Linked DNA regions of Homo sapiens. The protein of the gene in region 2 purifies or fractionates together with the protein of the main gene of each other region. This does not show direct contact. Each region holds a gene or a part of one and is shown on either strand. Other genes may lie near its edges.

Region 1 (5,825 bases), on a different chromosome or scaffold from region 2:
ACGAGGAGCGCGCGGCACTGGCGGCGACGGGGGCCGCAAGCGGTGGCGGCGGCGGCGGGGGCGGCGCCGGCTCCCGCAGCTCCATCGACAGCCAGGCCAGCCTGAGCGGGCCGCTGTCGGGTGGCGCGCCCGGCGCGGGGGCCCGCGACGTGGGCGACGGCAGCAGTACGTCCAGCGCGGGCAGCGGCGGCAGCCCCGACCACCACCACCACGTCCCACCCCCGCTGCTGCCCCCCGGGCCGCACAAGGCCCCCGACGGCAAGGCAGGAGCCACACGTCGGTCCCTGGACGACTTGTCGGCGCCGCCGCACCACCGCAGCATCCCCAACGGCCTGCACGGTAAGGACTACACGGGCCGGGCAGCGCGGGTCTCCCTGGCTGCAGCCCTTTTCCCAGGCTGCGGCGAGAGGAGGTGGTCCCTGGCTGTCCCACTCATGCGGCCGCCACTCCAGACTCCTCCAGCTGTCATGGATCCTGGGCCAGGGGATCCCGCACTCACCCAAAGTGGGGCTTTGGGCGGTGGTGGGCCGGTTCAGTGGTGGAGCGTCTTTTTGTCCAGCTCAGAACCTGCTGCCGGTCCGGTCCCAGAAAAGTTTCTAGCGGGTGTAGTTGCCAAAATTAGGGTCTGTCACTGCTGGGCTGGCGGTGGGCGCCTCATCCCAGCCTTGGAAATCCTTGCCTAGTAGCGGGAAGTTCTAAACAGCAAAGGATACAAGGCCCCTTGAGCGCAAGTGAATTTCCCCTCTTGCAGCAACAGGTGTCCTCCAAACCAAGCAGCGTCCACGTGTGTGCGGTGGCTGGAGTTCTGCAGTGGGGTGTGGGGATTGGGAAGGTGCACAGGCAGCCGCTTGAGACCCAGAGGCAGTTGGGGAGAGGCCTGGGGCTCAGAGCCTTTCTTGTTTGCCATAAATTCCGCCCTTCTAGTCCTGGGACCTTTCTCAGCCGAGACTCTAAGACTTTCCCGAGGGAGATGTATTTGGAACGGATTCTAGCTTTTCTCCTCTGTGTGCCTCAGTTTCTTTGTCTGTGAAATGGAGATGATGACCTCTGCCTCGTGGGTTTGAGGTGGAGATAAACCTTCTGAAGGGATTTATAAACTGTTGATCGCCTTACAGGAAGTGCCGTGGTCATCCGTGACCAGGGTGTGGGTGGGAGGAACTTTGGCCTCTGTCAGCTTCTGTCTTCTACGCCCATGTTACTGCTGCGCCCAGTGCAGAGGGTGGCCCCAGCTTGGGGCTGTGGGAGCTTGCAGCCTGCTCCCTCTCCCAGCCCCCTGCTCAGCCCTTCTGCTCCCTGCCAGCTTTCTCCTCCTCGCTGGTGGATCCGGGGCCTCCCTGTTCTTCCACGTTTTTTGGTAGCTTGGCTTCCAGTTCTGCTGGTAGTTGCAACTGCCTGAACTTTTTGCCTGAAGGTGGAGAATGAACAGCTCTTTCTGGTTCCCTTTAAAGCCTTTCCTAATTCAGAGAAAGTGTGTCTAAGCCTGCAATAACTGCCCTCCCCAGAACCCCTCAGCCTGAGCTGGGGAGGGACGTTTTCTCCTTAGTTTGGTGGCCAAGTGGCCTCTGCAGACGTGTTGGGGTGGGGGCTGGGGTGGGAGACATACCCATGGAGGTGGGGCAGGGGCAGTGCAGCATGTTTTTCCTTTATTTACCATCCTGAGCCTGTGGGTTCAAGGCAGGACTGGGTTTAGAGGGATATTTTGTTACTGATTAGCAATCTATGGCTACAACTCAGGTTTCTCTTTGTAACACTGTATCCACCCCCACCTCCCACCACAGGCTGCTTCAGGGCAGTGGGAGTAGCGCAAAGTTAGGTGGTTTAATTTGCTGGGGCTGTTCAGAGCACCTCAGCCCCTTTGATTTTGCCGTCCTGGGGGCTTTTGAGGGGTCAGTTATCTGGGCCTCGGTTTCCCTAAGTGCAGTCCAAAGAGCAGATTGCTGCAGTCTCGTGGCTGGAAAGTGAAATGTTTCTGGTTTTCAGCTGCGTCATCAATGACACTTGGCAAGAGTGCCTCTCTGCAGGACACTGGAGGGCTGGAGTGTTTAGAGCATACTTGCAGGAAAGGCTCTGTCGAGTTTTGGGCAAGGAGATGCGGCCCCAGTCTGGCTCAGCATGTCAGCTGCGACAGTGAATAATACAGGAGTGGAGGACTAGGCTACACTGAGTTTTCCACCCCACTGGGGGTCAGTGGGAGGTTGAAGTATAGGGTTTCCCACAGAACCCATCCTCCCCCAAGCCCACTTAGCACAGGACTGCTGCAAATGTTGTGGCAGCAAACCTTGCTTTGGGGTGAAATGAAAATTCAGCATTATTATTACAAATTTCGGTTACAGATGGAATTATTATTATTTAGTTTTGTCTCTTAAAGCCATGTGTGGCCTTGGGATGTGGTCCCACTAATGTAAATGGAAGGCTTGGAAACCAGGAAAGGCCCTTCTCTTAGAAACTGAGCTGTTCTTTCTTTCTTTTTTCCCTTTTTTCGAGACAGGGTGTCACTCTGTCACCCAGGCTAGAGTGCAATGGAACACTCATGGCTCACTACAGCCTCAACCTCCCAGGCTTAAGTGATCCTCCCAGCTCAGCCTCCCAAGTAGCTGTGATTAGAGCCATGAGCCACCTCACCTGGTGAAACTGGGCTTTTCTATTCTGGGACTTGTAACTTTAAATTGAGCAAAGATTGGGCCTGAGCTGAGGGAGATAATGAGTCTCTGTCTGGGTGGTGTCTAAAGTGGGGTCAGACACCAGGCTTGCGCCTTATGTGTTTGGTCTTTGCTTCTTCTCACAGGAACCCTGGGGAAGCAGTATTATCCCCATTTGACAGACAAGCAAGTGGAGGCTTAGAGGGGTTCCTAGCCTTGTCTGGGAAGGTGGCTGACATTGGAAGTACCTGTCCTGGGTGGGTTTGCTGCCATGATCATCTCGTGTTCAGGCCTTGGGTCTGAATCTGTTGTGCCCTTGGTCTGTTGTCATGTTTGCTGTTACTGTTAATCAGGGGACACTGGTGACTCCCTATTCTTGATTCCTGACCCAGGTTTGCCCTCTTTCTCCCATGCTGGGAAGTGTCACTTCCTTATCAGTGACCATTGAGCAGATGGCTGATAACCCCGTTACCCAGAGGCTCAGGGTGACTTGAGTTTGAATCTCAGCTCCTCCATGTATACTGGGCAAGTTATTAACTGGCCAAGCCTCTCTGTGCTCCTCTTCTGTAAGATGGACAGAACCCAGAGTGCCCCATTATTCACACAAGGTTGAGTGAGGTCAGGATCTACACACAGTAGGTTTCTCCTGTTGTTAGGGTCCTTGGGGCTCTCCCAACAGACCTCAGTTTCCTCTTCAAAAGTGCTTGCTGCTTAGACAGCTCACCTGAATGTTTGCATCTGAGCCTCTTGTGTGGCAGCACTTGCTGATGAGCTAGTGAGGACAGTGGCCCTGCTGTCCTTTCTGGGGAGCTGGTGGCAGTTGCAGCCCTGCTGGGTGCCCTGGGCAGACTCTAGTGGCTGAGGTGGGAGGTGGCCCATCTGTATGCAAGGCAGCCCTGGCTGAGGCTGGCCTGGTGGGCCTGTGTATTGTGTATGTACATGCAAATAGGCTTTTCTCCTTGGCTGCTTATTTATTTATTTATTATTTATTTAGAGACAGGGTCTCTCTGGTCACCCAGGCTAGAGTGCAATGGCACCATCATGGCTCGCGGCAACCTCAACCTCCTGGGCTCAAGTAATCCTCTTGCCTCGGCCTCCTGGGATGTGTGCTACCATGCCCAGATAATTTTTGAATTTTTTGTAGAGACTGGATCTCACTATGTTGCCCAGGCTGGTCTCGAACACCTGGGTTCAAGCAGTCCTCCTGCCTTGGCCTCCCAAAGTGTTGGGATTACAGACGTGAGCCACTGCACCTGGCCTTGGCTGCCTTTGGTAGAGGTCTGGTCTGGGCTGACTGGACTTGGGACTGGGCTGTGCGTTGCTCTAGTCCAGTGTGGCACACTGAGACAGGTAAACCCCAACACCAGAAAGTCAGGTTCTCCTTCATGAACTGATAGGATTTTCAAACAAAAGAATTTTCAGTTCTTTTTCCAGCTGCCCCTCCGCCTGTCTCCTGTGCCCCACGACAGGCACCATGCCCCCCTCCTGCCCATTGCCAGGCATTTCCTTCCCTCCCCTGATAACCTGCTCCTCCACGGTCCACTCCCCTTTAGCCAACCTGGAGGAACTAGGATTCTAGCAAGCCTGTGCATGAGCCCCATTTACTTTTTAAAGTTCGGATTAAAATTTTGAGCTTCTCAAAATGAGACAGGTTTGTTCTCCTGCTTGTGTTTTTGTTGGTTTAAGAGGGAGGATGGAACGGGGTGGTCTGGGCCTTTAGAAAAAGACAGAGCACGCTAACTCTGAATAGGTCTTTTCTGTGCAGCAGCTCGGCTAATAAGGCTGCTTTTCCTAAACCCAGCCAAGCTCAGGAACAAAGGTCAGTGAAGACAATGGGGTGGGTTAGATAAGCCTTTCCCCCTCCTTCCCCAGCCTGTCCCAAGGGATCCATCAATGGCCTTGGGATGCTGGGCCTCAGAAAGGAGGGCTGGCCTTGAGAGGCTCCCAGGCAGGTGACCCAGGGGTGGGTAAACTGTGCCCAGTGCTTCACAGTTTGCCACAAACAGCATCCCAGTCCCAATTCCATTCTGTTCAGAGCTTCCAAATGGTCCCAGGAGGGAGACCTTAGCATCTCCATATCTTAGATGGGGAAATCAGGGCTTGGAGTGGTGGTGCGGTGACTTGCTCTAGGTCCTGTGGGGCTGATTGGGGGGCCTGGGATGCGTCTTGGGTCTCCTGTGTCAGAATTCTGAGCCCATGGCCCTGTGCCTGCTGCCCAGAGAGTTCCAGGGGAGCGGTGACCTCTGCCACAGAGACAGGGCACCTCCTCCCAGGATGCCAGGCCCGGGGCCTCATTCCTGTCTCCCTGTGTCCTGGCATGGAGGAGTGGGGGAAGGCGGTGCAGGGTGGGCCACCTTCCCTACGATGGCTGTGGCTCCCCATCTCTTGGTTTCTCCTTCCCTCACTTCTCTGCACGAGGCTGGCTTGCCACCGCAGCAGTCGCCCCACCAGACCTCTTGCTCAGGCCTGGCCTCTGAGTTCCCAGGACCAGCACGTGATACAGAAGGAAATCAGTGGTTGCTCCTAATCTGTTTTCCGCCGGTGGGGATTTTCCAATCCATGCTTGTTGCCTTCATTTGCGCAGAGAATTGGAAGTCTGTTAAGCAAGTTCCTGAGCCTCCATGGGCCTCTGTTTTCTCTTTTGCCAAGTGGGAAAATGTTACTAACCTTTGGGTTGAGGGAGGAGGGTGTGTAGTGAGTGATACGTGTAGCCTCTGGCGGGTGGCAGCCCCTGATGTGCGAAGGCCCCATCTCCCGCTGCAGCGCTCGGCACCCCGCATGCCGAGGGGCATGTAGCCCTCTGGTTAGTGATCTGCCTCCAGGGTCAGAGAGCCCTGGGTGAATCTTGGCTTTGCCACCTGCTTTATGGCCGTGGCAGCTTACTGAACCTCTAAGCCTCAGTTTCTTCATCTATATCCTGAGGCTAATAATGTCTCGATCCTAGAACTGGGCCTTAAAGGATGGGTTCCATGTCCTTTCATTATTTCCTGGCCTCTGCGGATTTGCCTTCCCTGGGTGGGAGTGGGAGATCCCCTGACACACGCTGGTACCCAGTGTAGGGTCGGAGGCAGCTGAGTCCTCATCTAGTTGAATGGAGGGAGCCAGCATTCCAGGCAGGAATAAGAATGGCTAAGGTTTGGAAGTGGGGTCTGGAGCATGGCATTGAGAATCCGGGGCCTGCAAGGT
Region 2 (7,025 bases):
TGGAGGCTGCAGTGAGCCGAGATAGCACCACTGCACTCCAGCCTGGGCAACAGAGTGAGACTCTGTCTCAAAAAAGAACAAAAATCAACCGGGCACGGTGGCGCATGCCTGTGGTCTCAGCTGCTCAGGAGGCTGAGTGAGGTGGGCAGATTGATTGAGCCTGAAAGTTAGAAGCTATAGTGAGCCAAGATCATGCCACTGCACTCCAGCCTGGGTGACAGAGCGAGACCCTGTCTCAAAAAAAAAAAAAAAAAGAAAAATTAAAAAAGAAATACTTAGGGCTTGGGAGTGTTTTGAGTTTCCTAACAAAATTCCGCTATTAGCACTAGAGACTGCGAGCACAAGGGTGAGTGGTGCCCAGTCCCTGTCCTCAAGGAGCTTGTGGTCTAGAGACAGACAGGCAAGGAGACTGTCAACAGCTGGCTTGGCCCAGGGAAGGGTGCCCTGCCCAGGCATGCAGATCTGGAAGATTGTGCCCCACGTGATGCGTAGGAGTGATTTAAGGAAAGAGGAGGAGGTGGGGAGCATGGAGAGCAGTGAATACAAGGTCCACAGGAGCCTCAGACAGCGAGGACTTGGAATGGACACTGGAGGGAGGTGGCTGCAGAGGGGGAATTTTCATACCACTCTAAGGAGTTCAGACAGTAGGGCACCAAGCAGGGGTTTTAAGCAAAGGAGTGAAATTAACAGATTTGTCCAAGAAATACCATTCTAGCAGTAGAGGGCATGGGGCAAGCCTGGGGCCAAAGACCAATCAATGAGGCTGTCAGGTAAATCCAGAAAGGAGGAAAGTAGATGGATTTGGTGAAGTGTAAAGAAGGGAAAATTGGCAGGACTTGGTAATCATTTGGGGTAGAAAAGAACTGAAGGGTGGCTTGCAGGTTTCTGCTCCAGCATTGTGGTTTGCGATGGAGGGAATTTGCACAAGCTGAGTTTGAATTGCCTATAGAACAGAAGGCAGAAGAAGAGCCTACAAATGAGACTGAGAAAGGAGCAGCCAGATAAGTGAGAAGGGAGACCAGGGATGCGTGGCATCCCCAAAGCAGGGAGGGGCCCGCAGTGCTAAGTGAGAACTCAGGGGAAGGGCTGAAACGTGAGTGATGATGTGCTTACACCGATGTCCTTGGCACCTGCGTTGGTGAGATATTTTGGTGAGGTGGCAAGCTCAGAAGCCAGATTGGAAAGACTGGAGAAAATGAATGAGTAGTGAGGAGAAGAGACAGTAGCTTCCTTTAAGAAGCCAGAGAAAGCAGCCCACTCTCAAAAGACACTTAATCTAGGCTGGGTATGGTGGCTGACACCTGTAATCCCAGCATTTTGGGAGGCGAAGGCAGGTGGATCACCTGAGGTCAGGAGTATGAGACCAGCTTGGCTAACATGGAGAAACCCTATCTTTACTAAAAATACAAAAATTAGCTGGGCATGATGGTGGGCACCTGTAATCCCAGCTACTCAGGAGGCTGAGGCAGGAGAATCGCTTGAACCTGGGAGGCAGAGGTTGCAGTGAGCCAAGATAGTGCCATTGCATCCAGCTGGCGAGATAGCGCCACTGCACTCCAGCCTGGGCAACAGAGTGAGACTCTGTCTCAAAAAAGAACAAAAATCAACTGGGCGCGGTGGCGCCTGCCTGTGGTCTCAGCTGCTCTGGAGGCTGAGTGAGGTGGGAGGATTGATTGAGCCTGAAAGCTTGGGTGACAGAGTGAGACTCTGTCTCAAAAAGTAAATCAATAAATAAACAAATAGACTTAATCTAAAGGGAGAACAAACAAGGCAGCAGGGCACAGAGGGAGAGGGCATTATTTATGGCTCTCAGGATCTGAGTACCTTCAATATTGACTAAAAGAAAGAAAATTAGAACGTCTTAGAGCAAGCACTGTTACAGGTTGAGTACCCCTTATCTGAGATGTTTGGAACCAGAAATGTTTCAGATTTTTAATTTTTTTTTTATTTTGGAATATTTGCATATCCATAATGAGATATCTTGGGGATGGGACCCAAGTCTAGGCAATGGAATTCATTTATGTTTCATATACACCTTATACACATAGACCGAAGGTACTTTCGTACAATATTTTAAATAATTTTGTGCATGAAGCAAAGTTTGTGTGCACTGAGTTATTAGAGAGCAAAGGGTGGCTATTTCAGCCACCCATGGCTCTTCAACCAATCTGTGGTTGTTAGGCATCATATCATTTCTGACTCCAAATTTATATGCTGCCGATAAGCAATCTTTTTCTTGCATGTAGTCACACATAAGTACTTCACAGTAAGAAATACAACATACCATTAATACAGTGGAAAAGTTGTGTGTTCAGAGTAACTGAGCAGCACAGTAGCATGACCAGAATACCTGTGTCAGCTGCTAGACAACAGCAACAGCAAGCAACAGCAGCTTTCGGTCTCTACCTACAATGCTGTGTTTTGATTAAAAGGTTACTGTACTGTAACCCCCTTGGGGATGCAGAAATAAACTGTGTGTTGTGCGCCTGCATTTTGAATGCAGCCGCCCATGGGGCAGGTGTGAAATGTTCCACTTGTGGCCTCATGGTGGCACTCAAAAAGGCTGGAATTGTGGAGCATTTTGGATTTTCCAATGAGGGATGCTCAGCCTGCCCTAGAGAGAAGTCCCTGACGAGGCTGGTAGGAAGGCATGGAACAAGCCAACCACGCGCTCTGTATACTAGAGTTCAGGCCCATTTCCTGTTGGTTTGTCACATATAGAACAACAGATCAGTTGGGGACAGGCTTAAAATAGCCCTTGGAGACTGTTGTTAAGTCGTCCCCAAACCACTTCCCCTTTCATTGATTAAATGACATTTTAGGATAACCCACCTTGCCTGTGCCTCCTGGGGACTCTTGGCAGAAGAGTCAAGGATGGGTGTGCCATAGAGAATCATGGAGCCAGGGAATTACATAACGGGGAGACCATATACTCCAACCCCTTCTGTGTAGGGAGAAACTGAGGCCTCTGCCCTTCCCCCTTTTGATGCTGTGTGGGAAGGAAATTTTAAAGGACTTATTCTAAAAATCTGAGGGAAAACAAAAGAAAGTTGAATAACTGCGAAAATCGGATGCCACCCAAAGGGCCCTGTTTGTTTTTATTATTTGCGGCTCTCTGCTGTGAGCTCCCTTCTCAGCCATTTCTCTATTCTCAATCCGGGATCCCTTCTAGACAGATGCCTTTAAAATGTTTAGAATCTTCCTTCTTCCTTGAACAGGCTAGGTCTAGTATCATTAGCATGACCCTTACCAAGAAATCAACAGATCAGCTCCAAATGGAGTAGAAGGTTCTTGTCTTAAATGCTGACTTCTCCAGGTCCCTGCCACCCAGCCCAGTCAGGGCCCAGAAGAGCTTTCATCCAGTGCAGGAGTCATTTTCAGGAAGGACCCTCTCTCAGGGATGTGCCCAGGTGTCTGCACAGGTTGCTGTCACAGAGCTGGCTCCCTTTTGGGAGCAAGGTTTCAGGATGTTGCCTCTGACCCCAGCCCCAGGAATAGCACCAGGAGCACTAACTCAGATGTTGTTTTTTTCTAGGTTCCTTCTGACCAAGGGGACATGGCTCTGAAGATGATGAGACTGGTGACTCAGCAAGAATAGGATGGATGGGGCTGGAGATGAGCTGGTTTGGCCTTGGGGCACAGAGCTGAGCTGAGGCCGCTGAAGCTGTAGGAAGCGCCATTCTTCCCTGTATCTAACTGGGGCTGTGATCAAGAAGGTTCTGACCAGCTTCTGCAGAGGATAAAATCATTGTCTCTGGAGGCAATTTGGAAATTATTTCTGCTTCTTAAAAAAACCTAAGATTTTTTAAAAAATTGATTTGTTTTGATCAAAATAAAGGATGATAATAGATATTATTTTTTCTTATGACAGAAGCAAATGATGTGATTTATAGAAAAACTGGGAAATACAGGTACCCAAAGAGTAAATCAACATCTGTATACCCCCTTCCCAGGGGTAAGCACTGTTACCAATTTAGCATATGTCCTTGCAGAATTTTTTTTTCTATATATACATATATATTTTTTACCAAAATGAATCATTACTCTATGTTGTTTTACTATTTGTTTGACATATCAGTATATCTGAAACACCTTTTCATGTCAATAAATGTTCTTCTCTAACATTTTTAATGGCTGTGGAGCATTCTACTTTATGGTTGTACTCTAGTTTATTTACAAAATTCCCAGTTGTTTCCGACAAGTATAATAATTTCTAGTTTGTTGCTATTATACATAGTGCTCTGTTGATTCACCCTGATAGTTAGATTTTTTTGTACCTCCTTATTTTCTTAGAATAAATTCATAAAAGTGTAATTATTTAGTCAGAGGATTGCCACATTTCCTTAAAATCAAAATAATTAGCTCAGGACTTTTAACTTTTTATTCATAGCTCAAGATCTACATAAGGAGGTTTGATGCCGTGGCTCACACCTATAAACCCAGCACTTTGGGAGGTCGAGGCAGGAGGAATGCTTGAGCCCAGGAGTTCAACAACAGCCTGGGCAACATAGGGAGACCCCATTTCTACAAAAAAAATAAAAACATTAGCCGAGCATGGTGGCACACACCTGTAGTCCCAGCTACTCAGGAGGCTGAGGCAGGAGGATCACTTGAGCCAGGGAGGTTGATGTTGCAGTGAGCCATGATCAAGCCACTCACTCCAGCCTGGGTGACAGAGACCCCATCTCAAAAAGAAAAAAAAATCTGCATAGGGGATCTAACAGCTTCTAGGACTGTCTGAAAGAAATATCACCTCTTGTAGTTGCAGGGCTGAGATTTTATTTATTTATTTATTGAGACTCTGTGACCCAGGCTAGAGTGCAGTGGCACAATCATGCCTCAAATGATCCTCCTGCCCCAGCCTCCCAAGTAGCTAGTACCACAGGCAAGCACCATCACATCCAGCTAATTTTTAAAATTTTTTCGTAGAGTTGGAGTCTCACTATGTGGCCCAGGCTGGTCTCGAACTCCCAGGCTCTAGCAATCCACCTGCCTTGGGCTCCCAAAGTGCTGGGATTACAGGCATGAGTCACCAAGCCTGGCCAAAGGCTGAGATTTAAAAAAACAGCCAGGCACGGTGGCTCCAGCCTGTAATCCCAGCACTTCGGGAGGCCAAGGCGGGCAGATCACGAGGTCAGGAGATCGAGACCATCCTGGCTAACACGGTGAAACCCCATCTCTACACACACACACACACAAAATTAGCCAGGCGTGGTGGCGGGCACCTGTAGTCCCAGCTAGTTGGGAGGCTGAGGCAGGAGAATGGCGTGAACCCGGGAGGCAGTGCTTGCAGTGAGCCGAGATCGCGCCACTGCACTCCAGCCTGGGCAACAGAGCAAGACTCTGTCCCAAAAATAAATAAATAAATTAATTAATTAAAAAAAATAACAAACCCAAAGCTTATTCCTGCAGACTGTGAGGAAACAGTTAACAGCAGGTTATGTCTACGTGACTAACCCCTTCAGACCCTGAGACTAAAAACAGGCTCCTGGGACAGAGACTACACATGTCCCTATGGTTCACTGTTGGCAAGAACTCCAGTGTGCCCATGGAAAGCAAGAACCTTAGAAGCCTGTGCTGGATACCCCTGGACATCACCCATGTGTATCGTTTTTACCTGCCGCTTTTGATATGCATCTTTTGTTACAAAAATGTTAGCTATTAGTATAACCTGCTACTGAGCCTTGTGAGTCTTGGTGAACCATCCAACAAAGCAGTGAATCATAAAGCAAGTTGAATTCCCAACCTCACAGAGTCTCTTCTGTTAAAAGTTAGTGCATTGATTGAGAAGAAATGTAATTCTGAACATTGAGATGAGTCACCTGCACAGATGAAGCTAGGGGACCTCAAACCTTTTTGGCCATTAGAAGCCGCCCTTCCATTGCTGTCCGGGCAGGTTAATCATGTCTTGTCCTAAGATCTTGTAGTAAATTCCTAGACTTGCCCAGGGCTCTTATTCCTGCTGTATAACATTCTCTCTCAACCCACACCCCTACCTTCCTAGGGAATCCCTGTGATCAGTTGACAAAGGAAGACAACTCTCAGGCTTGATTTACAGACGGGGCTCCACAGTATGCATGCATCACCTGAATGTGGACCGCTATGGCACCACGGCCACACTCCAGGACAGCCCTGAAAGATGGTGTGAAGAGAAATCCTCCCAGTGGACAGAACTTGGAACAGTGCACTCAGCTCTTCACTTTCCCTGGAAGGGGAAATGAACAGAAGAATAAGTGCACCAATTCATGATTTAGCTGGGTATTTAGGGACTTGGAAGAAACTTGATTAGAAGGCTGGGCACAGTGGTTCATGCCTATAATACCAGCACTTTGAGAGGCTGAGGTGGGAGAATCCCTTGAGTCCAGGAGTTCAAGACCAGCTTGAGCAAGATGATAACACCCTGTATCTACAGAAAATAAAAACATTAACTCAGCATGTTGGTGCACCTCTGTGGTTTCAGCTGTGTAGGAGGCTGAGGTAGGAGAATCACTTGAGCCTGGCAGGTTGGTTGAGGCTACAGCGAGCCATATTTGTACTCCAGCCTGAGTGACAGGGTGAGACCTTGTCTCAAAAAGAAAAAAAACTTGATTAGAAAATTGATGACAAGAAGCTCTGAGGAAGAGGTATGAGATTAGATCTCTGAATGGCCGAGTATGAAGATCATTGTTTTCCATCTGAATACTCAACTAGGGCAAGGGAAGATTTTAATAATCAGGTGGGTAGATGACCCATTCTGTGGCTATTAGCCTCCTTCAGCCATTCCTGTAGACTCATGAACAAAGTGGCCATGGCGGCGGGGATGGAGGCTATGCATGGGCTTGGCAACATGTGCTTCCACTTACTAAGGGTGACCTGGTCACAGCCACTGCTGAGTGCCCCATCTGCCAGCAGAAGAAACAACACTGAGCCCCTAATGTGGCATCACTGCTGAAGAGATCAGCCGGCTACCTGGTGTTAGGCTGATTACATTGGACCACTTTTATTATGAGGCAGGCAGCACTGTGTTTTCAATGGAATTAACCCTT
Region 3 (7,956 bases), on a different chromosome or scaffold from region 2:
CTTTGTGAGAAGCGGAGTCCCCGATGCAACAGGTTTACATTGAAGGCCTGCCCTGTGCAGGGTCGACACCTGTGAGAGCGGAAACGGTGCTTCCTTGGATGTCGCGCGTTTGGTGCCTCGGTATTTGGCGCCTCTCTCGCATCATCCGAGGGGCCGGAGGAGAGAAGAAAATCAGGGAATCGGTAAATTGGAAAAATCATTCATCCGCATATCAGTGGGTCCTCCTGGCTTTGCTAAGTTAGGTCTTTACTGAGAGAGGGAGGGGAGTGTTTTGATCTTGTGGTGACCTTCAAACGTTCTCTTGCTTTTTTGGGAACTCGTATGGGCGTGTTCTGCGTTAACTTAAACAGGAGACTAAAAGGCTGAAACGCGTATGTAGAGATATTTAAACTCATTTCTAACTAGAAGAATGGCAATTAAACAACAAGATGCTGCTTGACCCTTACTAGGCTGGCCAAAATACGCTCCTGGGTGCCGGGTGGTGGAGGTGGAATGTAGGAATCCCGGAGGCGCGCTCTGGGCGCCCCGAGTCACTGCAGGTGGAGGAGAGCCGCGTGTGGACCTCACCGTGGAGACCTTGGCGGCAGCTTCACACCACGCCCTTGCTGCTTGCCGAGCAGCGTGAACGGATGTTGAAGGCGTAGAGCCAAGTAAACAGTGGACATACAATGCAATACCATTTCCACAGTTTGAGAAACAGAAGATACAGCCTTAAAGAGAACAAAAATTACATGTTAAACACCTTAGAATGGCTGCCCGATGGGAGAGGGAAGTGGAAATAAAAACGAGTGAATAGTATTTCTATACATTTGCAATAAGCAATGTGAAAATAAGACAGTTCCGAGTGAAGTGTGGGCGGTGAAGTGGAAAGCCAAAATTGCGCTTGTCTCCGCGCTGCGGACTTGAAACGCCTGTCACTGCGGTCTGGAAACGCCTGTCGCTGCGGTCTGGAAACGCCTCCGCGCTCTATCAGTCTGGGTCTCCTCGAGCTCGAAGTGGCGCCAGTGGGCTGCCGCCGCGCCCACCCGGTCCCATGCCCGTCCCGCGCCCCCTCCCGGGCCCGGCGCCCCCTCCTCAGGGGCCTTGGGTCCCCGCCACTTTCGTCCGGTCTCGGTCCCCGCGGATGCTGGTGGTGGTGGAGAAGGGCCGCGAGTTCTCAGGGAAGCGGAGAGGGAGGAACGCCGTTTGGCTGTGCGGCGGCGCCCAGTGACGGCAGCAGCAGCAGCAGCTCCTGGAGGAAGCTAGTTCCGGCTCGTCCAGCCACGAGGAGCGCGGCGGCGGCTGCATGAGGGTCGGACCCCAGAACCAGGCGTTGGTGCTGGACTTTGGCACCGGAAGAGACTGTGAAATGGAAAACCGTTTCGGAAGCTTTCGCCTAACAAATCATTTCCGCCTACAAGAAATTCCTACACCTTAGGATGGAGCATCTGTTTGCCTGGCTGCTATTCTGCGTGGAAGCAAATTTAAAGTGGTACAAGAAAAAAAAAATCCAGTCATACAAAGGAATTCGTCAGATTTTAATGCAAGAGATTCTAGCCCGTCTTTGTATGAGAATGTCTTTAAAGGTTGTTGATATAGAAAATGTTTTAAAGAACGTTAGGTTTTATTTCAGAAATGAAGTTGAAAAGAGCAATTTGTAAAGCTGTAGTTAACAGTCCTCCCTAGTTGGAGAGCTCTAGAACTGGAGGTTCTCTATGTAGGTTATACCACTAGTTGATTTGAAAAGATAAATGCATAAATGCTTTTCCTTGGAAACAAGACTGCAGAAAATTCCAAGGATCTAGTCCTTGAAAAAGGCGAATGCTGTTAAGCTGTTAAGGTACTACACTCTGTACCTTTAAATGAAAATACATGGAGGTCCTGGGTGAGCGCTTGGGCGCTCTGAAAATAGACGAGGTTTCCCAAATTTGCCTTCTAAATTTTGATTTGTTGATTTAAATCTTCTAAATTTATGTAGTCTGGCACTCAGGTTTGTATTCCTTTTAAGCACATGTTAGTGTTTTTGATATTTTCCCTTCTCCCTCCGACCCCCCAATTCTTCTTCTTTTTTTTTTTTTTTTTTTTTTTTTTTTGGTAGTCACTTTTCGTTTTTAAGAGTGACAATACAACTAGGTGGCCTGGCTGTTTCATATCCTTGGTTTCTCCATTTCTTGGTTGGCCACCAGGGGGAAGCATACTGTTTTTTTGGTTACAGTTGACCCTATCTTCATTTTGTAGGTCAAGTCTGTTTTTGCTTTGATACATAGAACAGAAAGCTTGTCACCGCGTTTCCCTAATGTATTATTTTAAAAAATAGACTTGCACAAATCTTTGAGTAAGTTGGCAGGTTTTTGGATACATTTTTGTTAACATTAATTTTGAAAACTTTATTTAGATATGTTGGATGTGACTAATGAAAGGACATGTTTGATGGCAACAAGGGGAATTCGGTTTCTGACATTTATCTAAATATAGATGTCTAGCTCTGCATTGTTAGTAATGAGTCTGACTTCTTTGGAGTTGTACTCTTCTTTGAAATAGCAAATGTAATATTTTGAACTGTCCTTGCACTTTTTGTTGGAATAGGTATAAGCGTAAACTTGCTAGCAACCTACTGTTCTAAAATGGAAAACATCTAGCCAGTCGCAGTGGCTCATACCTGTAATCCCAATACTTGAGGAGGCAATGAGAGGATTGCTTGAGCCCAGGAGTTAGAGACCAGTCTGGGCAACTTAGTAAGACTCCATCTCTACAAAAAATGAAAAAATTAGCTGAGCATGGTGGCATGTGCCTGTAGTCCCAACTACTTGGGAGGCTGAGACAGGAGGATCACTTGAGCCCAGGAGGTGGAGGCTGCAGTGAGCAGTGATAGCACCACTGCACTCCAGCTTGGGTGACACAGCGAGACCCTGTCTCTAAATAAATAAATAGGAAAACATCAAAAAAAAAAGAGAAAATTCTCTTTACAATAGCATCAAAAGATAAAATACTTATGAGTAAATTTAACGAAAGAAACAGAAAATATATACTCTGGAAACTGTAAAATATTGCTGAAAGAAATTTAAAATCTAAATAAATGAAATGGAAAAATGTCCTGTCTTAGTCTTGCCAGGCTACCATAACAGATATATACTGTGTGGCTTAAACAGAAATTTATTTCTCATGATTCTGGAGGCTGGGAAGTCCAAGAGGAAAGTGTGGATGATCTGGTTTCTGGTGAGAGCCTCATTTCTAGTTTATAGAAGGATACCTTCTTGCTGTATCTTTACGTGGTGGAGAGAGACATATCTCTCTGTCATGTCTTTTCTTATTTATTTATTTATTTGTTTGTTTTTGAGACAGAGTCTCACTCTGTCACTCGGGCTAGAGTGCAATGGCATTATCACGGCTGACTGCAGCCTTGAACTTCTGGGCACAAGGGATCCTCTCACCTCAGCCTCCCAAGTAGCTGGGACTACAAGTGCTAACCACCATGCTGGGCTAATTTATTTTTATTTTTTTGTAGAGACAAGGTCCCATTATATTGCCTAGTCTGGTCTGGAACACCTGGGCTCAAACGATCCTCTGGCCTCAGACTCTGGGAGTGCTGGGATTATAGGTGTGAACCACCAGGCCCAGCTTCATGTCTTGTCTTTTTCTTTTCTTTTCTTTCTTTCTTTTTTTTTTTTTTTTTTTGAGACAGAGTGTCGCTCTGTCACCCAGGCTGGAGTGCAGTGGCATGATCTCAGCTCACTGCAACCCCTGCCTCCTGGGTTCAAGCAATTCTCCTGCCTTAGCCTCCCGAGTAGCTGGGATTACAGGTGTGCACCACCACGCCTGGCTAATTTTTTGTATTTTTAGTAGAGATGGGGCTTCACCATGTTAGCCAGGATGGTCTCAATCTCCTGACCTCATGACCTGCCTGCCTGGGCCTCCCAAAGTGCTGGGATTACAGGCATGAGCCACCGTGCCTGGCCTCATGTCTTTTCTTGTAAGGGCACTAATCCCATTCGTGAGGACTTTCCTCTTATGACCTAATCGCTTCCCAAAGGCCCTGCCTCCAGATACCATCACACTGGGGGTCAGGCCTCCATATGAATTTTGGAGGACTCAAGCATTCAGTCCATAGCACATCTCAAAAAGATGTTCATACATTGGTAAACTGAACATTGTGTCCTCTTATTGCCACAGGTGATCTGAAAGTAGAGATGATGGCAGGGGGGACTCAGATCACACCCCTGAATGACAATGTCACCATATTCTGCAATATCTTTTATTCCCAACCCCTCAACATCACGTCTATGGGTATCACCTGGTTTTGGAAGAGTCTGACGTTTGACAAAGAAGTCAAAGTCTTTGAATTTTTTGGAGATCACCAAGAGGCATTCCGACCTGGAGCCATTGTGTCTCCATGGAGGCTGAAGAGTGGGGACGCCTCACTGCGGCTGCCTGGAATCCAGCTGGAGGAAGCAGGAGAGTACCGATGTGAGGTGGTGGTCACCCCTCTGAAGGCACAGGGAACAGTCCAGCTTGAAGTTGTGGGTGAGTGTCTCGGGGCAGTGCCCTACAGTTCCCATGGTGTTGGGGTTAGCAACAACAAAACCCACACACCTCTTTGAGCTCCACTTTCCTGTATTATAAAATGGTCTGATAATACATGGATGAGCTTGGTGGCTGTATTAGTTTGCTAAGGCTGCCATAACAAAATACCATTGACTGGATGCCTTTAAACAACAGATGTTTATTTTTCACACTTTTGGAAGGCTAGAAGTCTGAGATGAAGACATCAGCAGGATTGGTTTCTTCTGAGGCCTCTCTTCTCTGGCCATCTTCTCCCTGTGTCTTCACATGGTCTTTCCTTTGTGCCTATATCTGTGTCCTAATTTCCTCTTCTTATAAGGATACCAATCATATTGGATCAGAGCCCATCCTAATAACCCCATTTTTAACTTAATTACCTCTTTAAAGAACCTATCTCTAAATACAGTCACATTCAGAGATACTGGGAATTCTGGGAGGACATAAGAATTTTAGGAGGACATAATTCAGCCCAGCATGGGCCCTCCATAATTGTACATAAGACTTTGAATGTTTTGTCCGTAGTAATTTTGGGAGTGAGAGGCATATTAATTAGGATTCACTTCCTCTGCAACTGACAGAGGAATAACAGTGACAGTGGCTATATATACGGCCAACTGACAGTGGCCGTATATATATAGCCACTGTTCTTCTAGGCTTTATATATCTATATAAAGGGTCTACATAGGAGACAGGGTCTCCCTCTGTTGCCCAGGCTGGAGAGCATGGCACAATCATAGCTCACTGTAACCTCAAACTCCAGGGCTCAAGTGATCCCCCTGCCTCAGCCTCCTGAGTAGCTAGGACCTCGGTTGCATGCCACCATGCCTGGCGAATTTTTACATTTTTGTAGAGATGGGGCCTTGTGTTGCCCAGGCTCGTCTCCAACTTCTGGCCTCAAGAGATCCTTGTGCCCGGGCCTCTCAATGTGCTGGCATTACAGGGATGAACTACCATGCCTGGCCAACAGTGGCTTTTAAAGACATTAATAGACTTTTTTTAAGGACAGTTTTAGATTTACAGAAACATTGCAAAAATAGTATGAGAGTTCTCATATCACTCACGCCCTGCATACCATTTCCCCTGTTATTAACATCTTGTATTCGTATGGTACCTTGATATAATTAATGAACCCATATTGACATTTTACTATAATGAAAGTGTGTAATTTATTCATATTTCCTTAGTTTTTACCTAATGTCCTTTTCCTGCTCCAGGATCCCGTCAGAATACCACATTGCATTTAATTGTTATATGTTCTTAGGCTCCTTTTTGCTGTGACAATTTCTTAGACCTTATTTTTGATGTCCTTGACAGTTTGGTGAGGGTATTGGTCAGGTATATTGCAGGATGTCACTAAGTTAGGATTTGTCTGCTGTTTTCCTCATAATTGGACTTGGGGTTATGGGTTTTTGGAGGAACATCGCAGAGGTAAACTGCCATTTTCATCACATCAAATCACATGACTTATGACTGTTGATGTTGACCTTGACCATCTAGTTGAAGTAGTGTTTGTCTGGTTTCTCTACTGAAAAGTTACTCTTCCTCCTATTTTCATACTGTACTCTTTGAAAGGAAGTCACTCTGTGCAGCCCACACTTAAGGTTGGGGGTTACTTATGTTCTTCCTCCTTGGAGGTGGAGTATCTACATAATTTTTTTAAGAATTCTTCTGCATGGGAGATTTATCTCTTTTCTCCCATTTATGACTTTATTCAATCATTGATATCAATAAGGACTCAAGGATATTTATTTTATACTTTGTGTTATAATGCAATACTACTTTATTTTTTCTCAAATTTTTCCAGCTTTGGCCACGGGGAGCTCATTCACTTGGCTCTTGTGTCACATTGACATACCCCAATCATTGTAAGATTTTGTTTTGTTTTATTATTTTATTTTTTGTTTTATTTAATTTTTGGCAAATTCATATCAAGAATTTTGTTTGATTTTAAGCACTTTTTACATTTTGGCACTATAAGATGCTCCAGACTCATCTTGTATATTTCCTCTCTTGTATATTTCCTGGTTCTAGTCCTAGAACCAACCAATACTCCAAGAAACCTTGGTTCCTTTTATTGGAAAGTGATCTTAGAAACCAAGACCTGGACAGTAAGTGTACTTTTTGCTGCTGAGGTATCATTGATTCTAGACCCTCTCAGCCAACAGAGCAAAGAAATACATGTATGCATACTAACCTCTGCATATACACATATCTACAAATATTTCTATGTGTAACCATCTGTACCTATATTACATTAAACATTTGTTCTTACTGATGTCTCCAACTTTAGTCCATCACCACATAGATCATTCTAGTTTCCTTCTCTTGCTCATCTGTAAACTCCCACTCCAACAGTGAGAAACCTGTACCCACCATCCTCTGTTTATTGAATTAATTATTAACCTGTACTCCGATAAGAAACAACTTTATCTACTAGAGTACAGTGCTTTTTGGCAATTCCTTTTTTTTTTTTTTTTGAGATTTTTTTTTTGAGACAGTCTTGCTCTGTTGCCCAGGCCGGAGTGCAGTGGTGTGACCTTGGCTTACTGCAACCTCCACCTCCCAGGTTTAAGCGATTCTCCTGCCTTAGCCTCCCAGGTAACTAGGATTACAGGTGCCCGCCACCACGCCTGGCTAATTTTTGTATTTTTAGTAGAGATGGGGTCTCACCATGTTGGCCAGGCTGGTCTTGAACTCCTGACCTCAGATGATCTGCCCACCTCAGCTTCCCAAAGTACTGGGATTACAGGCATGAACCACCATACCCAGCCCAGATTTTAGCCATTTTAATAAGTATATAGTGGTATCTCATTTGTTGTTTTAATTAGCAGTTCCCTAATGATATAATGTTGGACATCTTTTCATATTCTTACTTGCCATTCGTATGTCTTCTTTTTTTGTGTGTTCATTGGTTGTCCAGGCTGGAGTGCAGTGGTGTGATTACAGCTCACTTCCCAGGCTCAGGTGATTCTCCCAGGCTTCAGCCTCCCAAGTAGCTAGGACTACAGGTGCACATCACCATGCCTGGCTAATTTTTGTATTTTTTGTAGAGATAGGGTTTTGCTGTGTTGCCCAGGCTGGTCTTGAACTCCTGGGCTCAAATGATCTGCGTGTCTCGGCCTCCCAAAGTACTGGGAATTGTATGTCTTCTTTGATGAGATGTTTGTTCAGATTGTTTGCCTATTTTTTAACTGGGCTCATTTTTTAAATTGTTGTGTTTTAAGAGTCCTTTGTACATTCTGGATACAAGCCTTTATCAGATAGATGTCTCACAGATATTTTCTCACAGTCTGTGGCTTGTCTTTTCATTCTCTTAACAATGTCTTTTGTAGAGCAGAAGTTCTTAATTTTAAAAAGTCGAACTTACTACATTTTTCTTTCATGGATCATGCTCTTAACATTGTGTCCTAAAGCTCA
Region 4 (7,956 bases), on a different chromosome or scaffold from region 2:
CAGCACATGGGCCACACACCCTTCCCCCACGCAGACCAACCCCATGGGGCCAGAAGTGCCTGCTGGCTTGGCTGTTTCTCAGTGAGCCAGACGTGCTCAACTGGGGGATTCTAGAAAGGTACACAGGCACCGCACAAGGTGGGGCACACTACTGACATTAAATGGTTGCAAGCCAGGGATTCCTGCAACATGGGACAGTCCCACAGGACAAAATTGTCCCTCCCAAAATGCCAAGAGTGCCCCACTGAGTAGCACTCAGTGCCCCCTGGGCCGTGTGAGCGAGCAAAGGCAAGCACGCGGGCTGTGAGAGGCGGCGGCGCTGGGCAGGGCGGGCAGGGACAGAGCAAGCACCTGGCTGCCAGCAGGGTGGAGCGGGTGCCCATGGGGCTGACCAGGTGGATGGCCAGGTCGCCACGGCGATTATAGGACAGGGTGAGCCGCGCCTGAGCGTGCTCCAGCCGAGTGATGTGGTTGGGCTCGCCCAGGCACGCGGTCACGGTCTTCCGCACCTCGAGCCGTTTCCCGATGTCTCTGTGCAGGAGAGCACCATGATGGTCAGCCTGGCCCAGAGGGACCAGCGGGCACCCCCTGCGACTCTCAGGTCCCACTGGCCCCCTCCCAGCCTGGGTCCAGCCCTCACTTGGGCTCGGTGAGGATGTCGATGATGCACTTCCGCTGGGGGGCCACTGTGGTCCAATTCTGGGCCAGGGCCACCATGGCGCCTGCGTCCAAAAGCCCGTAGCCATATGAGTGGCTCACTGTGGGGACAGGGAAGGTAGGGTCAGCTGTCAGGCACAGAGTGCCTTCTACCTAACTCCACATCCAGCCTGCCGGGCCAGCCTGCCCTCACCTTTCCGGCCCACACCATTGGTGGCCCAGTCGTTGGCATTGAGGTGGGCTGGCTTCGAGGTCTGTACCACCAGGTGTTGCATGTCCCGCCATGTGAGGTTCTTACTGCAAAGAAGGAAGGGAGAGGCTGGGGATCAGTCTTTTTTGGGAGCAGCTCTCCAGCTGCCCTAAGGGCTGCCCTACAGAGAGTGCTGGTAGGGACAGGGTTGCCGCTGGCCCCCACCCACTTACTTGGCCTCCAGGGTGAGAGCAATGATGCCGGCTGCTAAGGGGGCAGAGGCTGAGGTGCCCGTGTGAGACTCCGTGCACTTCTGCCGCAAGTCAGTCGTCACCTGCCAGGAAGAGAATCATATTGGGGCCTGTGATGGGTGGAGGGGGCTAGAGGAGCCACCTGCCTACCCTCCCTCTGCATACAGGCCCTGGGCACCACAGATGGTATGGGGAGCCAGGGCCAAGAACCCCAGGTCCCAGCTGCTGCCTTGCTAACTTGCCGTGGACATGCTAATGACGAGCCCCTCCTGGGCCTCATTTTCCAAAGGAATAAGGGGGTTCAACTAGAGGGTGGAGATGAATAAGAACAAAGTATGTTTTTAGAGAGAGTCTAGGCTTTTCAAAGTCTTCAGAGATGGCTCCATGGCCTCCAAGAACCTACAGAGCCCCAGAGTTCATGTTGCATGATGCCTGAGCCACTATCACCCAGCCACATGGGGGTGGAGGCAGACAGCCTCCAAAAGAGGGTGCTGGACAGAGCCAGCCAGCAGCCCCATCTCCCCAGCCCCCACCCCCAGGTAAGACTCACGATCTGCTTCTCATTCTGGTTGCCACTGCTGTAGGTCGTGGCCAGTGTGGACGAGCAGGCCTCGCTGTACCACGGCACGTTGCCAAACTGCGTGGCGCTGCTGATGGACAGCGTGTAGATACTGTTGGTGTAGCCGTCGCAGTTGCAGCTGTCATGTTCCCGGCCCCCGTTCCCCGAGGCCCAGACAAAGATGGAGCCCAGCCCCCCTCGGCCCTGTGGACAGAGTGGGCTGGGGTCATTCAAGATTGGGACTTGAGGGAGGGCTGGCAGGAGGACACTGCTGGAAAACTGGGAAGGCTGGAGCCTCATTCTCTGGGAACCTCCTGTCCCCTGTGAGATCCCTGGTGGATCAAGTATGTATCCAAATATGTCTATCTAGGCACACAAAAAATCAGACCAAGAGGCCAAGGCGGGAGGATCGCTTGAGGCCAGGAGTTTGAGACCAGCCTGGGTAACACAGCAAGACCTCATTTCTAAAAAAAATGTGTTTTTTAATTAGGCAAGTCCAAGTGGTATATGCACTCTACTCTTCTTCTGTCCCTTAATGTTTCAATAAACATGCTTTGTGTAAAGTTAAACATGAGAATAAATAAAACAAACCAAAAAACACAAGATAGGTACGGAAGACAGCACCCAACCTGCCCGCAGGGGCTGGACAGATCCCCACCTCACCTGGCTAACCCCACGGAAGAAGGCCTCCTCGGCGAGGCGGGCTGGCCCATCCACTGTCTTGCCGTCATCCTCGGGGCCCCAGCTGGCACTGTAGATGTGGATGTGGTTGGGGTTCAGGCCCAGCGAGCGTGCCTCCACTGCATCTGTCACCTCGCCATCCAGCATGCGCACCCCTGGCCGTGAAGGGGGGGCACGAAGAGGGATGCTGCATGGGTCCAGCTGTCAGGGCCCCCACCCCAAGGAGCACACCCAGCCCTGCACCCCAGGGGATGAGTAAGGGAAGGGTGGAGGCTGATGCTGAGAAACCCTGAACCCCCAACTACCTGTTTGCCTCTGCCTTTCAAAGACAAGACCCAGAGAAGGAAAAAGAGAACACCTCCTGCCCCCAACCACACATTCAGGACTAGAAAGAGTCTCTGGTTCCCAAAAGAGCCTGGTGATCAAGGATCTGCCACGTGAGGACTCACAGTGGGTCGTGAGGATTTCAGGAGACTCCTGCTAGGAAACCCTCACTCCACAGGGGTCCAGCTCTTTCAGTCTTTGACCCTTTGGGAACCCTCCATGGAACAGCCACGTGATCAAAGGATCCACAGTGGGAAAGTGGCAGGCATTGGCCAGATGGGAAGTGGGCGGGAAAAATTCCACTGAAGGGCCCTCCTGAAGACAGGGTGGCCCAGGCCCACACTCACCTCCAATGCGGGCGTTGTAGGCCACACCTACACCACAGACACCGTTGTTGGCCACCGCAGCCACTTCCCCCGCACACCGTGTGCCGTGCCTGCCAGGGCCAAGCACGTAGCATGAGTAGAACAAATGGGGTGAACAGGGCCCGGCAGATGTGGCCTGAGGAGCACGAGGGATCCGCACATCCGACACCCATCATCCCCTGAGTACCCAGCCCCCATCTCCCACACTCCACTGGGCCTGTGGCCATCTCCACTCTGACCGAGCCCTCCCTCAGAGCCCCAGGTGGGCCAGGACTGTGGGAAAAGCCTCAGCCTTTTAGGCAAGGCACATCTCACCCAGGCTCAGCCCTGTTCCTTAGTGGAAGAAAGGAGAAGGGAGGCAGAGACCGGGGCCTGCCACTTCTTACCTGTTGTCATTCATCTGTGTGTACCGAGGCTGGGGGTCAGGGTCCTGGTCATTGACATCAAAACTGGCCCCAGGATCCTAAGAAGGATTTGGCCACCATCAGGAGAAGGCTGACCTCACTGATAGAACAAGACAGCCTCTAGACACACCTCAGCAGGGATCACGGCCTCCCTCCCCGACTTCCTCACATAATTGCCTGCCAAGTCCGGGTGGTTCTTCTCGATGCCATCGTCCAGAATGGAGACCACAATGCCGTGCCCTGTGTAGCCCTGCGCCCAGGCCGCCTTCACATTCAGGTCCCGCTGAGTGACACCAGACTGTGGAGACACCCACCCCATCACTTATGAGACATGATTGGTTTTGTGAGGCTAGGAGCATCTTGAAGAATCCCTTTGCCCCCGTAAAACCTCCTCCTGTACCATCCCTGCTCCTGAAAGGCCGCCACTGGCTGTCTGGACTCCATGGGAATGTAGAGGACTCTGGGAGGGCCACCCCCAGGCTTGCTTATTAGGATGGGCCAAGGAGAGACTGCCCAGCAGGAGGAAAGGAAACGAATCAGAGGAGGCCTCGAAGACAGCCTCCTCCATCCAAGAGCTCATAGTGGGTGGATGGTGCATCTGGGGAGGAGGTCCCAGCAGCGAAGAAGGCCACGTACCAGGTACCACTGCTGAGGAAACTTGGGGTCTGTGGGCTCCTGGTACACGTCCCGTTTAGTCCGTCGCTTTGCCACCTGCTGTTCCAGCCACTGTACCTGTGGGGGAGTGAGGGAGAGATGGTGTGGGTGGAGCAGGAGGCGAGAGGGGCTCCTGAGAGCAGGAGGGGGAGGGTGGCAGCAGGAGGGGGCTGGGGCCACACTCACTTGAGGCTCCCTCTGCAGCCGGCTGTGCCGCGGGCGGTGAGGCGACAGGGACCGCTTCGTCACTCCTCGATGCCAGAAGTGGTAATAGTCCCCGAAGATCTGCAATAGAGCAGGGAGACTGAGCTGGGCTTTCCATCTGTCAGTCCCCGGGAGGCGGGGGACGGGGGTGGACAACGGCTTCATGGGAGGCTCGCCACGGTCGGGGGTGCGGGGCATCTGCTCCCTGTCCGGGACCCAGCAAAATGCGGGGACCATGAGGACTCACTCTCACTGGGATATGCTGCTTGCCTGAACCACCTGTGCTTTGCTCATGGCCACCCAGAACATGCCGGCTACCCAGATGCCCCTGAGCAAACAAGGCCAACAGCTCCTGCTCCCAGAATCCCTGTCTTCTCTGGTCCCACCCCCTGGCAGTGTCCTGTGGGGGAACACCTACCTGGCCCAGGTTGAGGAACCCATGCTTCCGTGCCACACTGTTGGCCACCGCTGGGCCTCCAGGGATGCGCACAGCCCACGTGTTGGTGAAGACCTTCTGGCCCTGAGCATCAGCTGCTAGCAGGACCAAGGTTCCTGTTGCTGCTACCACCCATAGCAACCAGGGCCTCAGCTCCATGGGGGGGACAGGTGGCTGGGACCCTGGAGCGCCCGTCTCCTTGGCCTGGTCACAGGGCCTCGGCTCCCAGGTGCCTGCTCACTGCCTGTGGCCCGGGGCTGACTGGTGGGGGCATGGGGCCGAGACGGGCAGGGCTCGGGAGGGTGAAGAGTGCCGACCCTGAGAGGAACAAGAGGGGAAAAGGGGAGAGAGGGTCAGTTCCTCCCCTGCTACGCACTAAAGCTGCCCTGCCCACCCCAAGTTTCAATTGGGGCCTGAAATGAGATCTGGGGGAGAAGGGTAAAAAAATTAGTCCTCCCCAGAAGAAATCTAGCCCCCAAGGCCAGCCACATAGATGGACAGATGGATGCCCTCACAATCCCCCCCAATCCTTTCTCCATGCAAGAATATAAGAAATGTAACAGAAGGGCCAGGCATGGTGGCTCACTTCTGTCATCCAGCACTTTGGGAGGCTGAGGCGGGTGGATCACCTGAGGTCAGGAGTTCGAGGCCAGCCTGGCCAACATGGTGCAACCTCGTCTCTACTAAAAATACAAACATGAGCCAAGTGTGGTGGCGGGTGCTTGTAGTGCCAGCGACTTGGGAGGCTGAGGCACAAGAATTGCTTGAGCCCAGGAGGTGGAGGTTGCAGTGAGCCAAGATCGCGCCACTGCATTCCCAGTCTGTGCGACAGAACGATACTCCCTCTCAAAAAAAAAAAAAAAAAAAAAAGTGTAACAGAAGAAGCAGGATGAAGACTATCAAGCCCTGAGTCACTCAAAATCAGAAACAACAAATGAATAAATGTTCACCATGATCAAGGTAAAGAAGATGCATTATAAAGCAGTATGTACACATAATCCCATTTTATTTTTTAAAAACTATTTATACATGTATATTTATACAAACTAAAGCGAAATCTGGAAGGATACACACGCTAAAAAATGTTAACGGTGGTTCTCTCAAGATGGTGAGAATTACAAGTAATTGTTATTTTCTTCTTTGTGTCACTGTATTCTCCAAATCACCTAGGTATGTTTTACATGGGAATAAGATGTTGGCTTTTCAAGGTTCTTAAATGAATGGCATCTATACAACTCACTAGGGTTTCCTAGTTCAGCAAAGCAGATTCAGCCATAGGGAGTTATTCGCAAAGCCCCACAGCTCCTAGGAAGAAAATGGGTGACCCTAAATGGGATGGTGCTTTTAGGGGCCATGTCCTGAGGGGGTGCGGGGGTGGAGATCACAGAGGCTTCACCTCCCTCTATGGCTGAGATGGCCGCTATCAGCAAAGTCAGGGCCCCAGACTCGTTTTTACAGTTTCCTGGGGAACGCTGGGGCCGCCAAGCCCTGCCCTGCCTGGGCCTGGAGGCCCCCAGCTGCCCCCTTGCTTGCTCCACGCCCACCAGCCTTGCGTAATCCGAGCCCAGGCAGCCAGGGCAAACACTGGCTGCTGAGCCAGGAGCGCCAAGGTGAGACTGAATCAATAGTCCGAGTGTTGTTTTTCCTCCTTCAGCAAACAGACGGCGGGACCTCTCTCTGCCCGGGGCCACATAACTGTCCCCACATAGTGCCCCTGACTAGCCAGAAGCCAAGGCCCTGGAGGAAGGGGGGGAAGCTAGGGGAGGTCCCAGCAGTGCTGCTGGGGGTATCCCATATCAGTGCCAAGCTCCCTGAGCAGCAGCAGGGCCCTGGATGCCCTTAGCACTTCCATAGCCAAGGCCACTCTGCCGGATACCAAAAGGAAGGCACCCCAGCTCACGTAGGCCCTGGGGAGCTAGAGAGGCAGGCTCACCACAGAAAACTCCTTGCTTCTCCAGAAGCTGCCCTTAGACACAACCGGCCTCCCTGACTGCTGCAGTCCCACCCTGCAGGCTGGGGGTACTCCACACACAATTCCTGGAGTATTTTCAGTTTGGACCAAAATAACCTGACAGCTGATGGCAGGAGACATCTACAATACAGCTCCTGCACATCCCTGCGGGCAGACTCCACAGGACTTCCAGGGCAGGCCTCGGAACCACAGCCCCATGGTGCTTTGGGTGGTTGGTTCCAGAAAGCTGGCCTGATCAATGGCTGGGCAGCTAGGCGCCCCAGCCCTAGGGGATGGAAGGACCGCCCCCCCCACCCCAAGTCCCTCATTTAACAGAGGATGTGGGACCCTGGGAGCAGAGCCATATAGGAACGGGGCCTCATCTCTCTCCTCTCTCTTGCTGCCACAACAGCTGCCTCTTGGGTCCAGATGTCATGCAACCACCCCCCTGCCCCCACCACCACCAACCACCGTGCTGTGAGTCCTGCTGGAGCCCCCAAATCGAGGCTGGGTTCATCTGGGTCTAGCCCAGATTCCAGCACACTGTAGATGGAGCCGCAGCTGTTTGGCGTTAAAAGTGATTAACCAACTATTTAATTACCTTGCAGCACTCGGAAAGAAAGCAGGCGTCAGGCGCAACTGAACAGTCCCCCCAAAGAAAGAGGGCCAGCCTCCCTCTATCCAACAACCCCAGCCATGGTGAGGGGTGGGGATGGCTTCCAGAAAATGAGACCCCCACAGACGGCTCTGCCACAGCATGTGGGACAAGGGAGGATCCCCGAAAAGAGTAAGAACTGAAAACAATGAATGAATGGGTTTCTCCCCACCCCCATCCCAGACTCTGACTCACCCTCTAGTCCCAGTTTGTCTCAAACCTGGAGGCTTGCTGTATTTCTCATGGTCTTGTTTCACATGGGACTCTGTTCCAGGCTGTGGCCAGAGAGAGCTGTGGGTGCTCTTCCTGGCTGTGTTCTTGGGCAAAGCCCTTTTCTCCAGCACCAGAACCTCCTGACACAGAGAGCCACTCTGGGCCACTCAAATTGCGCCTCACCCCAGGACCGACTGCTGTTTCCCAGACACTGGGGGTCTGGCTCTGACACAGCCACAGAGCAGGCCACGGGAGGGCCACTCGGACACCCAATCAGTCTCTCCCTCTAGCAGAGACACCACGCGGGGTCCTGTTACCAGCCCTGGGAGGCTCCCGTGAATTTATCGCTCCCAGTCCCTGCCCACTATTTGCTGGATGATCTTAACAAGTCACTTCCTCTCCCTGGGCCTCA

What was found.
Region 1: the proteins of SCPEP1 (region 2) and CCDC85C purify together in Homo sapiens (affinity purification with mass spectrometry; one large-scale study listed by BioGRID and IntAct). This does not show direct contact.
Region 3: the proteins of SCPEP1 (region 2) and NCR3LG1 purify together in Homo sapiens (affinity purification with mass spectrometry; one large-scale study listed by BioGRID and IntAct). This does not show direct contact.
Region 4: the proteins of SCPEP1 (region 2) and FURIN purify together in Homo sapiens (affinity purification with mass spectrometry; one large-scale study listed by BioGRID and IntAct). This does not show direct contact.

What each region holds. Positions count from the first base shown.
Region 1 is NC_000014.9:99,597,681-99,603,505, reverse strand, and holds part of CCDC85C (coiled-coil domain-containing protein 85C), read left to right. Parts: coding exon 1-339; intron 340-5,825. UniProt on the Homo sapiens protein: May play a role in cell-cell adhesion and epithelium development through its interaction with proteins of the beta-catenin family. May play an important role in cortical development, especially in the maintenance of radial glia.
Region 2 is NC_000017.11:57,002,638-57,009,662, forward strand, and holds the end of SCPEP1 (retinoid-inducible serine carboxypeptidase precursor), read left to right. Parts: intron 1-3,535; coding exon 3,536-3,598; 3' UTR 3,599-4,131; downstream 4,132-7,025. UniProt on the Homo sapiens protein: May be involved in vascular wall and kidney homeostasis.
Region 3 is NC_000011.10:17,352,502-17,360,457, forward strand, and holds part of NCR3LG1 (natural cytotoxicity triggering receptor 3 ligand 1 precursor), read left to right. Parts: exon of another isoform or gene 1-182; intron 183-963; exon of another isoform or gene 964-1,471; intron 1,472-4,149; coding exon 4,150-4,500; intron 4,501-7,956. UniProt on the Homo sapiens protein: Triggers NCR3-dependent natural killer cell activation.
Region 4 is NC_000015.10:90,872,669-90,880,624, reverse strand, and holds part of FURIN (furin isoform 1 preproprotein), read right to left. Parts: intron 7,772-7,956; exon of another isoform or gene 7,527-7,771; intron 5,044-7,526; 5' UTR 4,885-5,043; coding exon 4,708-4,884; intron 4,371-4,707; coding exon 4,272-4,370; intron 4,164-4,271; coding exon 4,068-4,163; intron 3,730-4,067; coding exon 3,601-3,729; intron 3,491-3,600; coding exon 3,414-3,490; intron 3,099-3,413; coding exon 3,010-3,098; intron 2,494-3,009; coding exon 2,321-2,493; intron 1,862-2,320; coding exon 1,649-1,861; intron 1,182-1,648; coding exon 1,081-1,181; intron 955-1,080; coding exon 851-954; intron 759-850; coding exon 641-758; intron 532-640; coding exon 352-531; intron 1-351. UniProt on the Homo sapiens protein: Ubiquitous endoprotease within constitutive secretory pathways capable of cleavage at the RX(K/R)R consensus motif. Mediates processing of TGFB1, an essential step in TGF-beta-1 activation.